2 separate regions of the Homo sapiens genome follow, and region 2 is linked to region 1. The links come from fine-mapping of genetic effects on gene expression. A gene starts in region 1. The other region holds a variant in brackets. All regions are shown on one strand. Distances are between the middles of the regions. Region 1 holds the start of LINC01923 (long intergenic non-protein coding RNA 1923). Region 2 overlaps LINC01923 (long intergenic non-protein coding RNA 1923).

Evidence for each region. PIP is the estimated chance that this variant, and not a neighbour inherited with it, causes the effect. A credible set is the group of variants that fine-mapping cannot tell apart.
Region 2: its variant is the best candidate, but not a certain one, in a credible set for the expression of LINC01923 in cerebral cortex (GTEx, PIP 0.58).

Annotation. Positions count from the first base shown.
Region 1 is chr2:198,371,848-198,377,236 of GRCh38, forward strand. It overlaps LINC01923 (long intergenic non-protein coding RNA 1923), which reads right to left and starts at 3,250. Exons shown (of 3, transcript NR_110267.1): 1 at 3,036-3,250; 2 at 2,629-2,770.
Region 2 is chr2:198,303,525-198,308,913 of GRCh38, forward strand. All of the region lies in intron 2 of LINC01923 (long intergenic non-protein coding RNA 1923), which reads right to left. Among named protein-coding and RNA genes, the nearest start is that of LINC01923, 69 kb to the right of the region's middle. The variant G/T (reference allele first, on the strand shown) is at 2,455.

The sequences.
Region 1 (5,389 bases):
CATGTGTAGATTTCCATAGACTTCCTGATATTCACAGGATGTGTAATACTCAAGCATCAACGTGTAGATTTCCATAGACTCCCTGATATTCACAGGATGTGTAATACTGAAGAAATGAGGTACGGTTACACACACACAGGCACACACAAAAGACTCAAGCAGAGCAGAGTCACGAGCAGTGGACAGTTGAGTATGGGACTGACTCAAACGAAACTGATAAAGTGAAAGTGTGTGAAGGCTATGCCTGGTGAGATCGGCCCATGGTTACACCAGATACAATAATAGGACACAGGCGAAGCTCCCTTCTGCCTCATGTTGCACTGAGAGTCCAAGAAAGTTTGGCAAGTAGACCCTGAAGTCCTGTCCAGATAATCCAAAATCATCACCCATGGAGCTTAATTCTGAATTTCCGCCCCAGACGAAACTCCGATTAAATTCAATGAGTGTTTCTCATTTTAGAAAGTTGTGCATGTGCATGCCATATTCTTTTCTTAGATAAAAACATACCCACAGCTCCTTCCATACAAAACGAAACCAAACACATTTAGAACACATGTAAGCCATTTCTCTATGGGAAAGGCCATTTGTGGTTAACACAGAAAGTATTTATGGTTTCACTGTTAATTGTGGTTTCTTTGTATTAGCCAAAAAAGGTAGCGTTTTTCATGTTAGAAACAGTATGAAAGCAATAGCCTTTCTAAAAAATATCCGCATTTTCTGGGGCATAAGGAAGTAACTGAATTTATGATATCTTCTAAACACCAAAGGAGTATATGCAACATAAAATTGTGTTTTCAATTTGAATAAAAGTTTATTCAAAATTATCTTAATTGTACTTTTGTACATTTCCACAAGATAAGACCATATAATCAACATTGTATATTTAAGGCATTTGATTTTTTATTTGTATTTGTTATCTAGGAATAATAACATTTATTTCTGAATCAATGCTATTCTTGTAAATTATTTCCTTTCTTCTGAAAATTGTTAATTTTACAACGTGCATGTTTATAAACGTGGATTCATTTACCTAAATCAGTTGGCTGACCTGCCTAATCCCTTCCCTCTGTCTTCCTCTTTCTCTCTTCCTTCTTTCTTCTCCCCTACTCTCCTCTCCCCTCCCCTCTCCTCCCCTTCCCCTTCATTCCTTCCAAAATGCAATACTGCATTTTGGCAAGGATTCTATAATGAGAGTGAGTGCATTCAAGAGGTTAATTACATGTAAAAACAGTCAGTTTCATTAATTCGAATGTACTATACATTTTTGGGGCCTATATGTTAATATTTTTTAACAGACATTTCCACAAGTGCTGCATTTTAACATCTGAATGCATCATGTATATATTATTAGAAGAGGGAAAGAAGAGACAATTGTGATTATTAGGTCAATAACCAGAACACTTAGGAAGATTAATATAGCAAGCAGTTTTTTGTAAGTACATTGGCTTTTATTACCTACAGGAAAGAATATATTTTCTAATTTCATTATTATGCAATTTAAAAAATTTTAGAAGAAGCAATATATAAATATTTGATTATATCTTATTAAATTCCATAAGAAAAAGAAGCCATCAAAACATGACCCTAATTGTCTCTTTCTGAGTGTGAAAAACATTCTTTATGAAAATGCTTGGAAGTGTAATTTATCAATTTAATCACATACATTTATGTATATCTCCTGAGTGTATGTGAAATTGAGTCTAAATGAACATTTTATGATGTTAAACGCATTTTTCCAAAGATCTACATTTATTCAAAGATCATGTAAAAGGCTGTTAATTTGGATAAATACTATTCTGTCCATTGCTAAGTATTTATAAAATTCTGAGTTTAACTTAAAGACATCAAACATATTGGTACATTTAAATTGCACCAGTATTCGTTTCTAAAAATCTTTAATAAAAAATGTAAAGGTTTTGAATTATATTTTGTCTCCTTTCTCTTACAAATGGAAAATTAAACTGGAATATATTGTTATGTATGAAATTTATTAACTATGATGAGGTTATATACTATATAACTTTCTGCCTCTCAAATATTATTGTAATATATTTTATATAGTGTGTAATATTGAATCTTAGTGTAGTAATATATTTTGACATTTATAGATTTATATATTTTTAAATCTATTCATAAACATAGGATATGTTTTTCATGTCTTTTTGTGATTTTTAGTTTGAAAAACATAAACATTTTAAGCGATAACATTCATAGAAGGCAAATACTTCTCTGTGGAGTCTTTACAAAAAGGAATAAAACCTCAAACTAGAATTCATTTAACTTCATTTTAATAGATATGTTACGTTTTATTTTTGTTGCCGACATCTGAAGTAAATAATTTCTGAATCCAGGTAGTTGTTTTTGCACAGCAGAATAAAATATCTTTTTTACTATTTTACTATTTTCATTTGTATTCAAATATTGATATGAAGTAACCAAAGAACAAAACAGACTTTACTAATACATTCTTCAGTTGCGGGCAATCGGTGGTGAGAGTCAAAAAGAAGAAAAGTCCAAACAAAGGTTTTTCATTTCTTGCTGTTTACAAATATGTAAAAACAAGAATTCATAGTGTCCATATATTTCCTAGCCTTTAGTGTCACATTTTGTTCAGCAAAGGTTTCTTACCTTTTTTCATTGATGCCTTATTGAGAATCCTGAAATACTGCTGCTCAGTTCTTTCCTCTTCATCTGCTTGCATTGTGCATATCAGTCTGTAGGGGGCACTCCTCAGCTACCACAAAGACTTGTGATAAGTCCTTTCTGTGGTCTGAAATGTATTTAATACTCATTATTTTATCAAGGCACTTAGTTTAAAGAGAATTCATAGTTTATCTTTAAAGCATATATAGCCATAATTGAGGAAAAAAACCCTCAGTTTCAAGATGGGCATTTGGATTTCCGAGGATGTTAATAAAAATTTACAAAACTGCATTGAACTTTGGTAAATTAGTACTTTTCAGAGCTTCCTTCTTTCTATTCTTTTCTTGGAGCTCAGGGTGGATTTTATAATACCCAGACTTTTATTACTATACCTCGAGTCTTGTTGTCTCTTTGCCTTGAGGGCTCCCAGAGAGCAGAATGTAGAGTGATCATGATTTACATGTGGGAAGAGGAACCACAGAGTTTTTACATAGAATTACATGCCCTACACTGGAGCTTATAAACAGCTTATCTTTAACGGGAGTGAAATATTGAATTTAAGATTGTGTGTGGCCTTCTCTACTCCCTTTCCTCCCTTTCTCCTCCCATCTCCAACAGAATCTACTTGGGTGGCAATTCTAAGAACCCCTTCCATAATAATGACGTGGTCCTCTCACATGGCTGTATCTTCCAGGTTCACATCAGCTGTGGGTGCAGCTGCTTTGGCTTATTATAGATTTCCATAGTTACCTCTCAGAGAGACCAGCAGCATTAACTGGTCCAACACGTTGGGGGTTGACTTTCCACATTCAGCCTCTTACTTGCCTCCGTGCCAGTGCTTCTGCGTCCTGCTGTTACCATGGTTGTACTCTACTCACCCTCTTTGAGACCAGCCCCTCCTCTTGATCAGAGAGCCCCTCACTCCTCTGGAGCCTGACACTGGATGCCACTTCAGCAGTTGCTTCGTCCTTTTCCTTATCATCAAACGTTCCCTTTCTCTGCTGTAATTTCTCCTATCTCTCTTCACCCCACTTCTCCTGCAGCCTCTCCATTTCTCAATTCATTTTATTTTTTATTTAATTTTATTTTTTTTGAGACTGGCTCTCACTATGTTGTCTGGGTTGGTCTTGAACTCCTGGGCTCAAGGGATCCTCCCACCTCAGTCTCCCGAGTAGCTGGGACTACAGGCATGCCCCACCGCACCTGGCCATTTTTCAGTCCATTTTAGAGCAGAACCTCTCAAAGGGCTGTCTGTATCTGATGTCCTAGGCTTTCCACCCCTCCTTCTTTCCTTTCCTGCTCCACTGATGCTCTGTTCCTAAAATCAAGGACCTCCATGATGCTAAACCTAATGGTCAGTCCTCAGCCCTCATCTTTTACTTTATTTTTTTTATTGCTGCCTCCTATACAGTGACTCAGCCCTCATCTTGATTGACATAGAAGCAGCATTTTATTTTTCCCCATAGGGGATCACTCACTCCTCTTTAAATGATTTCTTTCACATGGCTCTGGTTGTCTTCCTCCCTCACCAGCAGCTCTTATTCCACTCCTTTGCTAGCTGTGTCTCATCTTCTTTTAAAAAGCTTAAAAAATATATATTTTTTTAAATGAAGATGGGATCTTGCTGTGTTGCCTAGGCTGGTCTGGAACTCCTGGACTCAAGCAATCCTCCCAGCTTGGCCTCCCAAGGTATTGGGATTACAGGTGTGAGCCACCACACCCAGCCTGTATCTCATCTTCTTGAACCCAGGGAAGCTCAGGTGTCTCTCTCTACACTCGCTTTCTAGGTTAATCTCATCTCTCAGGCTTTACATACTGTCTATATTCTGAAAAATCCCAATTTTTTCTTTCCAGCCAGGACTACTTCCCTCAACTCCTGGCATGTGTATTTAACTTCTTTTTCACTGGACATTGCTGTTTGGATGTCCAACGGGCTTCTCAAACTGATCTCCATCCTAATCTCACAAAACAGGCCACTTCTTAACAGTCCTTCCTGTCTTAGAAAAGGGAATTTTCTCAGGATAAAACCTCAGTTTTAAGACAGTAATCCAAGCCGCTGTCATCATTTCCTGTGTCCATTTCTCCTCACTCCAATACACCGACATCAAATCCATAGAGGTTAAATATCAGTTCATTTCAGTCCCTTTCTCAAAACCCACCAGTGGCTCTCTACGGAACAGAGTGACGGCCACAGTGCTGTTAATGACACCAGGGCTCTACTGGATCTGACCTCTGAGATGCCTCTTGGCTTCTTCCCTTACTCTGCTCCCTGGCTCACTTCACGCCAGCCACATGTCCCACTTTGCACTTGCTTGATAATCCAGGAAAATCCCTGCCTCCAAGGGATTTGTTATTTTCTCTTCCTAGAGTGCTCCTTTCCCTGATACCTTCATGACTCACTTCCTCACTTGCATAATATCTTTCCCCAAAGTCATCTATGTACTGCGTAGGTGTCTCTGACCACTCTTAAAAATAGCAGCCCTCAGCTGGGCGCGGTGGCTCACACCTGTAATCCCAGTACTTTGGGAGGCCGAGGCAGGTGGATTGCCTGAGGTCAGGAGTTCAAGACCAGCCTGGCTAACATGGTGAAACCCCGTCTCTACTAAAAATACAAAAAATAGCTGGGTATGGTGGTGCACGCCTGTAGTCCCAGCTACTCGGGAGGCTAAGGCAGGAGAATTGCTTGAACCCAGGAGGCAGAGGTTGCAGTGAGCCAAGATTGTGCCACTGCATTCCAGCCTGGGTG
Region 2 (5,389 bases), 68 kb before region 1:
GCCATCGTCCTAACATTATGATTCACTGAGCTACTTTTTTTTAGCATCATTAGACGTGTGTGTTCCTTATTAGTATATTATAAGAATTTGTGGGTTATCTAAAGGTTTTGGCTCCTAGGAGATGAGGAAGTCAGTCTGCTTTATGAGCCCTCCTCTTTGGACCCTCTTTCTGTTTTGTCATTTGCAGCACATTGTTGAGCCTTCTTTCTACTTGGTCATTTTGTGTGACCATCAGAGGTTAAATGTGGGTCCGCTGGTTATTATACAAGACCAGAATATTGATCAGCCCTTCCTGTTCTTGATAGAGTTCCTTCTATTTCTGTGTTAGTTCAGCTCACTCCCAATTATTCTGTCCATTCTTCTTTTCTACTTACCCTGAACATATATATTATATACACACATATTTATAAACTAATATAGCAGCAAAATTTGTGCATATAATTCATATATGCATATGTATGTACATTGGTATACATATAGGCATATATACATCCCTTACCTCATGAAATAATGACAAACATAAATCCTGTTTTCATTCTTCTTTTGTATTATAAGTTTCCTTTTTTTTACTATTTCTTTTAGCTTTTCTCCTTTGACTTTGATTTTGAACTCAATCTTTCATAGATCAAATCATTCCAATTACCTAATACTATTTTTATTTTATACCTAACACTAATTTTATTTTTATTTAATTATAATGTAACAATAATAATTATTTAATATTTGAATTATCACAACTTTTCCATGAGAATTCCCTTAAGTCAGATCCTTTGATTTTTTAATCATTGTCACTATATTTTTCACATTATCCTCATTTTCTGGTACCTGCAGGATGTTCCCAACCCATTCTGAGTGTTTTCCTTTCGCTTACCAATTCTGAGTTTCCCCTCCCCACCACCTCCTCAGCCATCAGCCTTGCTGGCACAGGCTCTCCGTGATCACACCTGGGGCCCTAGGCAGTCCCTCTCTGCAGCTGTCTGTTTAGACACCTCCAGGGCAGGATATGGAATGGCTTTGCCTGCAATTCCAGCAGATCCACCAACGTCACTTTCACTGGCACCGTGAAAGCCTGCATCTTTTGCAAGACTTATATCAATTTGCAGCATGTAGCACTATACTGTTCAACATTTCCAACAGCAGACTATCTGGGGAAAAATTAATGAACAAAGCCTTGGCTTTATGTGGGGATGGACCCAGCCAGGAGCACTCCTGGAGTGGGGACTAATTTTTATAAGTTGTCAGATTACTAGTAAACACTTAATGTTATGGTGATTTTTGCTTTCCTAAACAATCTGGCATCTTCAGGAAGTCACACAATGAATGCTGGGTTAACAAAGATCTATTATACTAAATAAATCTAGTGCGCTAAATTTCAAGACTTTTAACCTAACCCAGCACTTAAAATCTAAGATTAATAATCAAGTAGAGTGGGCATTGGGAAGGCGTGAGCCACATTCCTGGGATCTTCTTTCTGAGACTGGGTATTGCCCAGGCTGTGAAAATAGGCAGACTCATGACCTGGGGCTTTCCTGTTCACACCTCAGCTCTTCCTGCTGGTGCTCAGCCTTTACTGGAGAAGGTAACTCGGTCTTTTCATCTTTTGAAGAACATGAGCACCCAGTAAGATGTCAGCAATACACATTATCAGGTTCTTTTTGCCTTCTGGTATCGGACCAGACCTGATGTGAGCTATTATACAGAGACCTTAGTGTAAGGACATCTCCCTTGGTAGTAAGCGCTGGGCTTTGATGATCTGAAGAAAAACTGAGCTGCGTCCCAGTTCTAGAGTTCCTAGAGAGAGCACACTCCCTCTCTGGAGATTCTATTTTTCCTGTAACTCATGGCAAAGTGGTCCCCTGTGGATTTTTTCTTTGCCAAGCTTCTCCCAACTCCACATCCCATTGGTTTTGCCCTAATTGTTATTTATTTAAGATAAAAGAAAATGTAATCCTTATGCACCATATTCCATAAATTTAACTAATAAAAATGTTGTTTTGTAAGAGCCTTTTGAAGTCCAAGTAAACTTTGGAATCATTTTTATGAGACTTTAAAAATCTTTCTTCTTAGGGGCAGGAAGTTATATTTTGCCAAGAATAAATGAACTCAAATAGCAAAGGGATTGGGCTTGACATGAGGTGCCAAACCCACAGTGTTTCAGTGGCTTCTGAGCTGGGCCAAGTGCGTTTTCCCAGTCCTGAGAGTCAGGACTGGTATCTAAAGTTTCAGACTAACATGTTATTACTTATAAATAATTATTTTAGTATGCCAGTTGTTCTTAATGTAAAACGTTTGGCTCCATTTTTGAACCAACTTGATTCTATAGGCAAAGAAGAACCAGATTATTGATTTCTCAAGTCATCCCTTTGTTAGTGTTTGCTGGAGTTACCTGGAAAAAACCTGCATTTAATTCCCTCTTTGCCATTTCCTTGAATGTTCTTACCTTCTTCATTCATA[G/T]TAATTTAAGATAATGTAATTTTTTTCCATGCCCACATTCTAAAACATTTTTAGGAGTGTTTCCAAAAAGAGAAGTGATGATAAAACAATATAATTAATGTTGGAAGCCATGAAAAATTCATAGACACTTCAAAGAGAGGATCAAGTTGTGTCATATGAGGGCTTATCATTCCCAAAGAAGCTTTTATGAAAGATGAATATGAAGCTGGGCGTGGTGGCTCACGCTTGTAATCCCAGCACTTTGGGAGGCTGAGGCGAGCGGATCACAAGGTCAGGAGATCGAGACCATCCTGGCTAACATGGTGAAATACTGTCTCTACTAAAAATACAAAAAATTAGCTGGGCATGGTGGCGGGTGCCTGTAGTCCCTGCTACTCAGGAAGCTGAGGTAGGAGAATCCCTTGAGCCAAGATTGTGCCACTGCACTCCAGCCTGGTTGACAGAGCAAGACTCCATCTCAAAAAACAAAACAAACTAAACTAAAAACAAACACACAAAAAAAGATGAGTATGAAAATTAATTAATAGCAAGTTCAGTTGTCATTTTAAGACAAGTTATTGATTTAAAAACAAAAATATTTCACCCGCCACCCTCTTCTCCACTTGCCGGCTCTTCGCCCATCAACAGAAGGTTTTCCAATTGTATCTTCTCGTTCACTGTCTCTTCCTGCTACCTCTGAACTTCTGTCACACATTCTATTTCAGTCTTGCTTATGGCTGCTGTTATCATCACCATTATTTTGTGCTACCACTTCCCAGGTTCTCCGTTACTCCAGATCTTTCTCTCAAAAACTCAGGCCTGATGGCCTCTGTTTTTCTTGAGTTCACTTCCTCTGTCAGTCCAGGATATCCTGTCTTCTTTCTTATCCCCTAATTCCAGCCCTACACACTCCCCAGGCACAGCCTTCCTGTGACCCTTGTCCCAGCCAGGCAGGCACCAGATCATTAACTTTAGATTTTCTGACCACTCCTCAAGGAAAGATGGAAGATCTTTTCCTTGGCTCCAGCTAGGGATGTGAACAGACACCTTCCCCACCCCCTGCAGCCCTCTCACTAATAGGTAGTCAGGATGGCAGCTTGCACCTAGGCATCTGGTGAATTCAATTCACTTCTCTCAAGTAATCACTCTGCAAGGGCCCACTGTGTGCCAGGCACTGGGCCATGTGCTTGGTAGGCAAAGATGAATCAACTAGGGGCTGATTATTATCACAGGATGCAATGCAAAGCAGCCTCCTGGAAGAGGCAGTGGTGAATTCTGCTGTGAGGGGTTGGCTGGGAAGGCTTTCAGACGCAGCAATGCTTGTACTGGATTTGCATGAGAAGGAGAAGAGAAGACAAGAGGAGACCATTCCAAGAAGCGGTAGCCACTTCTGTAAAGGCGTGTAGTAGTACACAATGGGGGTGTGGTTGAGGAAATACAAGTAATTATGTTTTAAAAGAATGACAGTGACAAAGGGGAGGCATAGTGACAGCCACCCAAAGGTTTAAGGGAGTGATGTGATTTGATTCCTCTGGCGAGAAGGTGGTGGTTGCACTGGGGAGAAGGGTGTGGGGAGGACTGGAATAAGGCTGACCAGAGAGGACACTGTCATAGGCAAAGGAGGTCACAGGCTAGAGAGTGACAGTAGAGAGGGGAGGAGGGGCAGATTCAGTGTAATGAGGGGTGCATGACCCACCTGGTACCTTGCAGTGAGGTTAGGGTGAGGCAAGCTCCTGCGGAATTAGAAAATCTCAGGCCATAGTTTCATTCAGGCCTGGAGAAGGTTGTAACATCTTAATCCTCAACTAATTCCCGCTTTGCCAGAACGCTATAACCTATTTATAAAAGTACCCTTGTCAAGGATACTTTTGACCTTGTTCTATGAGAAATACACACATGCATCCATATATATGCATACAGAGTATGTGTAAGATATATATATAAATATAAATATATATAATATTTATAAAACATATGGATTACGTATGCCAGGGTTCTCCAGAGAAACAAAGCCAAAAGGATGTGTGTGTGAGTGTGTGTGTTGTGTATGTGTGTGGAGAGAAAGAGAGTGTGTGTAAGAAATATTTATTATAAGGAATTGGCTCATGCCGTTATGAATATTGGCATTTTCAAAATCTGCTGTAGAATTCAGGCCTTCAACTGATTAAATAAGACTCGGCCACATTATGGAGGTTAATCTGCTTCATTCAAAGTTTATTTAAAAAAAAAAACCTTTGCAGCTACATTTAGACTAATGTTTGACCAAACAAATGGGCACTGTGGCCTAACCAGGTTGATACAAAATCACAGACACTTTGCTTTACCTTCTTCCCATGTTCCCCCACAAAAAGGTGAATTCTGGCTTTGTGTTTGTAATTTTGTACTTATCTGCAACTTTAGACTAATTCTCAGAGTCTGAAAGAATAAAGATGTTTTCTAAGAATAAAAGCATTATTTGTATATTTGCTTCTAACCCTATATTAAATATCTAAACTGCATTAATTCATTAAATGCATCTTTTTACTCATACCCTTTTCTTTAAGTATTTCTTATGTGCTATCCCATTAACAATGGATACAGTAAGAATTATCCCTGTTTTGCTGGTGATGATCTGTCCAAGGTCCCTGGCTGGTGCACACTTTGCTGTCAAACGTTCTTGTTCTACCTCACAGCAGCTTTTGCTGATTCCAGCGTAAAGTTGCTTCTGTTTGTTCTCAACAGTTGTCCATCTCGCTGATGACTTATGAGGTATTTATTTTGCCTTGCATCTTTTGGAAACTTCTGAAATAGTCCTTATTTGTCAGTTTGCCAGTCCCTTGCCTACGGAGTAAATTTTAATGAATTTACTTGGGGAATTTAATGATGCCTTTATTTTTAAATTTTTTAATTTTTCTTGAGACACAGGGTCTCACTCTGTTGCCCAGGTTGGAGTGCAGTGGCACAATCATGACTCACT